Regions from separate parts of the Homo sapiens genome. Here region 2 is linked to region 1. The links come from fine-mapping of genetic effects on gene expression. Tissue or cell type: whole blood. Region 1 holds a variant in brackets; the other region holds the start of a gene. All regions are shown on one strand. Distances are between the middles of the regions.

Region 1 (2,500 bases):
AGCGGCAGGGTTCTAGTGGACGCAATGAAGCGGATTGCAAAGAGGAAGCTGGCAGCCACACTGCTTCTCCAAAATTAGTTTTTAATACATTCAGGTAGGTTATACAAAGAGTTGGTCCCGAGGCCTGGGCTGAGGCCTGGGCCCTGGGAAGTGACAGCAGCCCTGTGTAGTGTTTTCAAAGATCAGGCGTGGGGACCCACACCTTGGCCTCCAGGCCTAAGGAGGAGTGTTACGTGCAGTAGCACCCGTGGGTGTGATCCCAACCAGGACTGGGTCTGCCTGGGTGCTCCACACACCACCAGGGCCTAGCCCTGGCTCTGCCCATTGACTCTCCCTTAACTTCCTCTGGGCCTTGGTGTTCTCCTCTGTAAAATGGGGTGGAGAGAGTGGCATTTTCACTTTCTCGCACATTACTGAGCCCACATCATGAGCCAGACTGTGGGCCAAGCACAGGTAAGATGATGAAGACAGCAAAACAAGGTCTTGAGTTGGTCCCAGCACGTCCATTCTTCCCAGACAGCTCATGACTCCATGGTATGAGGGATGGGGGTCATCTGGGTGAGGCTTTTTACCTGTTTTTGTAAGAGGGAAAAAAGATCCTTGCATGATGAGGCACAGAAAGGAAGTTTGGAGCCAGCATTATCTTGTGATGTGATAGCTGAGAGAGGACATCACTCTGGTCCAACCCCCAATCTCACCCCACAAATAAGGGCTCTTTTTTCCCCCAGAGGCTCTGTATAAGCTCTCCACAAGTTTCATTCTCTTCCTAAGCCTCAGTTTCCCCATCTGTGCAATGGGGAGGTTGGATTCCATAGTCTCAAACTCCAGGCTCTGCTCAATAGAGGAAAAGGGAATGAGAGAATGCAAGAGCACAGAGAGAACAGGAGAACCCACACCAGGGTGGAAAGGAAGGGAGGAGGGAAACAGGCAGAGAAGGAGGAGAGCGCCTGCAGCTGCCTGCCTGGGAGAGAGGAGAGAGCAGGTGTGCACAGCACAGGATGCTTCCAGACCCTGCTCGGGCTATGTGGGGCCACTTCCTGTCCACTTAACGGCCTGCAGCCCCTGCAGTGGTAAAGATCAGGCCCTGGAGACAGAAGGATGAAGGTTTGAATCTCACCTATGGCATTAGTTAGCTGGGGCCCTGGAAGGAGATTTTCAGAACTTCAGTTTCCTCTTTTATAAAACGGGGATAAAATATAGAGCTGTCACATAGGGGCAGACACAAGGCTTGGATTCAAATCCACATCTGCCAAGCTGGGTGCAAAACAGAACCAGATATCTAAGGTTTTAGCTCCTGGCTCAGCAGCCAAGGTGGGGCTGCGATGGAGAAGTGGGGCTGGGCAGGGACGGTGCTTAGAGCAGCACTGGGGTCAGGGTATGCAACATGAGAGTGCCAGGAAGGGAGA[G/A]GGCAAGTCCAGAGCAGGAGACGGAATGGTCCAGTGCTGGGCTGGACCCCTTAACCAGACCCTGCTGGAGCCGCCGTGGCCCACCTAACAACACCAGATCCGAGACACACTCGTACAGCTCCAATTCTCTCTTCTGGTCCTAAGCTTTTCATTTTCAGAGAGACTGAAAGTCATTCTCAGAAGACGTGACAAACAGTCTGCTTGGAAATGTCTCAGACAAATCCTCCTGGGCTTGGCCCTCCCTCACCCTGGCACAGCCGGGGCAGGACTCACCGCACCAAACCAGCGGGGCCTGCCGAGCTCTGGAGCCCTGGGCTTTCACACCTCAGGCCCTAAGCACACTGCGTGGCGGCCACGTGGCTCTGCAGCACTCTCTCCTACCAGACTGGGAGATTCTTGAGGGCGGGAATGTATCTCATTTCCCAGCATTCCCAGTGCCCAGAGCAGGGTGTGGCACAAAATACATGCTCAGTGAAGATTTGTTGATCTGACAGGTCAACATTATTCTCGGCTGTCCCTGAAACCGCCCAACTTCTGGCTTCCACAGCTGGACCCAAAGTGCAGCCCGGGAAGGGGGTCACCCACTGATGCAGCAGGCGGCAGAGAAAGGTGTCCTGGGCTGTAATTTGGAGACCAGAGTTCTGGGATCCCGGATCACTGTGTGACCTTGAGTCAGTCCTCACTCTTCTCTGTACCTCAGGCTCCCCCACTGACCTAGAGTGTCTCCCGGCTTCTTTAGGCTTTATACTGTTGGTTAAACTTCTGCCGGCGGACGCAGCAGCAGGCGGCCAGCGTGGTGAGGAGGATGGCAGAGACCAGTATGAAGGTGAGGATGATGATGAGGTTGATGTTCTTCAGTCCCCCCTTCTCACAGTCCTCGGGACGCACGTGGCTCAGGGACACCTCCTCCTGGGAGCTGAAGCGGCAGATCAGGTCCTGGGTGGCGTCCACGTCCACACGGCCCTGGTGCAGCTGGGCTGCCAGCCAGCCATTGCCGCAGCAGCTGAGTGGATTCCCCTGCAGGTAGAGGCGCCGGAGGCTGGTCTCCAGGCCACCCATGGCACTGCCTGGCAGGAGGCTGAAGCTGTTGTTTC
Region 2 (3,012 bases), 28 kb before region 1:
AGATGCGGTGGATCTGGCCCGGCCCATGCAGCTGGAAGGTGGGAGGAGGCCTGGTTGGTGGGGTCTGTGGGAGGCTCTAGGTCAAATTCCTAAAAATGGATCTGCTTGATGACCAGCTTGCCAACTGATCAGGTTTTCAAATGACCAATTTGCCAAATATACCAAACTTACCAATTTACTATTCATTTTTTCCAAAGTATATAGCAATTGTATTGGATAGATTGACACTGGTTTTCATTTCATCTTCATAGTTCATTTTAAGGAATGTTTAGATGGTCAAAAGCTAAGTGTCAGGGAGTGGTTTCATTTAGTAAAGGCACTTAACATTTGGAATTGGAGAGGGACTTTCTGGGAACATCTACCAGGAATGGGGCATTCTGGGAGCTCTGTAGCAAGACAGGCCTTCAGGGACCACCTGACTCCCCAGAGCCATGTGGCCTGTGCCTGGGTTGTCCTCTGACTGGCTCTGTGTCCTGTGCCAGGCCCCTTCTCCTGTCTGGGTCGCAGTCTCCTGGCTATAAAGAGCTCAGCTTTTGGGCCTTGCTGATGTTTGATGAGACCCTGGAGCTACCTGTGACCTCAGTCTCCGAGTGTGGCCAGGGTCCAGGCCATGGGAGCCAGAGAAGCTGCTGACTCTGCTGAGGGCAGCCCAGCCCTGCTTGGAAGTCAAGGCTGTTGTGTTGGTGCCTGTATCTGAACTGTGACATTTCTGGGTCCTGTCCCCAGCCCCAGGCAGAGGGGCCTTGCTTGCTGTGTGCGGGGAGCATGGGGCTGCAGAGGGTGGGGCCCAACTAACTTTCCTTTCCTGGTAACACGCTTGCTAAGCTCATTTCCTTTTTCTGAAGGGAAATGCCATTGACATCACACCACTGGATTTTCAGTGACGCAAGATGAGAACTCGTGAGCCCTTCGCAGGCAAGAAGGGTGCACGTGTGGGCTGGGCACAGATCTGACCCGGGGCAGATTCGGAGAACCTCTGATCTGAGGCTCCTAGCCCTTGCTTTAGAGATGGGGACCCCTAGGTCAGAGAGGGGTAGAGACATGCCCTGGGTTCCACAGCCAGACAGCAGGGCTGGGGCCAGATCCCAGGCCCCTGTCTCCCAGCCCAGGGCTCTAGATGAAGGGGCCTGACTTGCCCTCTCAACCTATCTTAATAGTGGCACCAACATCCACCAAGTTGCCTAGGCCACAAACGGGTCTCACTGCACTCCTCCCTCCCAGCACCCTCCTCCTGGCAGCAGCACTCATAGCTGTCTCCTGCAGTCCATCACAGGCCACTCCCTGGCTCAGGCCACCTTGTCTTCTCCAGGACCCCAGTCCAGGAAATACCTGGCCACTGCTCAGGCCTCCCTACCTACATCCAGGCTTCTCCCTCCAGTCCATCTTCTGTTCAGCTGCCTGGGTGACTTGGCTAAAACACAGAGCCCACAGTGTCAGTCCCCAGGGCAACCCTTCCAGGGCTCCTTGGCTGGGCATCCCAGACTCTCCGTGGTGCTTGCGCCTCCTTCCAGCAGCTGCCCCTGACACGCCCCTTTGCTCCCTCGGTGCAGAAGCTGCCTGCCCTCTTCAGAGTGTGCATCCTCTCTGCATTTGCTGTTCCTGCGCCGTTTCCTCTTTGGGAACTCCTCCCTCTGCAGGCACGTTCCTGTTTTTGCTCACTCCTGAGGAAAGCTCACACGGCCCGATCTCCCTTCCCCCACCCCAGCCTTGGAGGGAACGTCTAGGTCTTCCTCCCCACCTCCTTGACAGCAGCAAAGACATTTTATTGTGGAAAATTTCAAACACACAACAAAAATAGTACAAAAACTACTGTGTATTCCTCACCCAGCTTCGACCCTCCCCGACTCAGGGCCACTCTTGTTTCATTTCTATCCCCCAACTCCTCCCCACTGGATTACTCAGAGCAAATTTAAACATCAGATAATTTTATCCACAAATACTACAAGGAGTTGGGCGCAGTGGCTCATGCTTATAAATCCCAGCAACTTGGAAGGCTGAGGTGGGCAGATGACTTGAGGCCAGGAGTTCACCACCAGCCTGAGCAACATAGCAAGGCCCTGTCTCAAAATAAATATTGCAGTCTGTATTTCTAAAAGATAAAGGCATGGCCAGAAACTATTATCCTGCCTACATTTTTAATAATAATTTTTTATTATCATAGTATATAGTGGTGTTTAAATTTCCCCAATAAACCAGGCGTGGTGGCTCACACTTGTAAGCGTGATTACTCCAGATTACTCCAAATCATGCTTCTAAGTATAATTACTCCCAGAACTTTGGCAGGCTGAGGCAGGAGGATCACTTGAGCCCTGGAGTTCAAGGCCAGCTGTCTTCCAAATAAAAAAATTCCCCATTGTCTAACAAAGATCTTTTACAGATCTTTTAAAGTTGATTTGTTCAAAATCAGGATCTACACAAGTTCCATACATTGCATTTGATCGTTTTCTCTTAAATCTCTTTCAATCTTTTCTACTTCCTCTCTCTTTTTTGGGGGGGGAGGGGGTGGTTTTTTTTTTTATTTTGAATCAGGGTCTAACTCACTCTGTCACCCACGTTGGTATGCAGTGGCATGATCTTGGCTCACTGTAGCCTCAACCTCCTGGGCTCAAGTGATCCTCCCACCTCAGCCTCCTGAGTAGCTGGGACCACAGGCATGCGCTACCATGCCTGGCTAATTTTTTGTAGTTTTTGTAGAGACAGGGTTTCGCCATGTTGCCCAGGCCGGTCTCAAACTCCTAAGCTCAAGTGATCCTCCCACCTCAGCCTCCCAAAGTGCTGGGATTACAGGTGTGAGCAACTGAGTCTGGTCTCTCCTTATTTTTTATTTTTATTTTGTCTTGAGACACTGTCTCACTCTGTTCCCCATGCTGGAGTGCAGTGGTGTGATCTCGGCTCACTGCAACCTCCACCTTCCAGGCTCAAGTGATTCAGCCACCTCAGGCTCCCAAGTATTAATAGCTGTGACTACAGGCATGTGCCACCACACTGGCTAATTTTTGTATTTTTTTTTTT

What was found. PIP is the estimated chance that this variant, and not a neighbour inherited with it, causes the effect.
Region 2: it holds the start of LINC02757, and the variant in region 1 is fine-mapped to the expression of LINC02757 in whole blood (INTERVAL, PIP above 0.99).

Annotation. Positions count from the first base shown.
Region 1 is chr11:76,657,463-76,659,962 of GRCh38, forward strand. LRRC32 (leucine rich repeat containing 32) reads right to left here. Exons shown (of 3, transcript NM_001128922.2): 3 at 62-2,500. The coding sequence ends at 2,142. LRRC32-AS1 (LRRC32 antisense RNA 1) reads left to right here. Exons shown (of 3, transcript NR_199061.1): 2 at 2,146-2,232. Among named protein-coding and RNA genes, the nearest start is that of LRRC32-AS1, 1.7 kb to the left of the region's middle. The variant G/A (reference allele first, on the strand shown) is at 1,407.
Region 2 is chr11:76,628,837-76,631,848 of GRCh38, forward strand. LINC02757 (long intergenic non-protein coding RNA 2757) reads right to left here and starts at 1,586. Exons shown (of 5, transcript NR_187244.1): 1 at 1,355-1,586. RefSeq lists enhancers at 651-1,010, 1,469-1,763.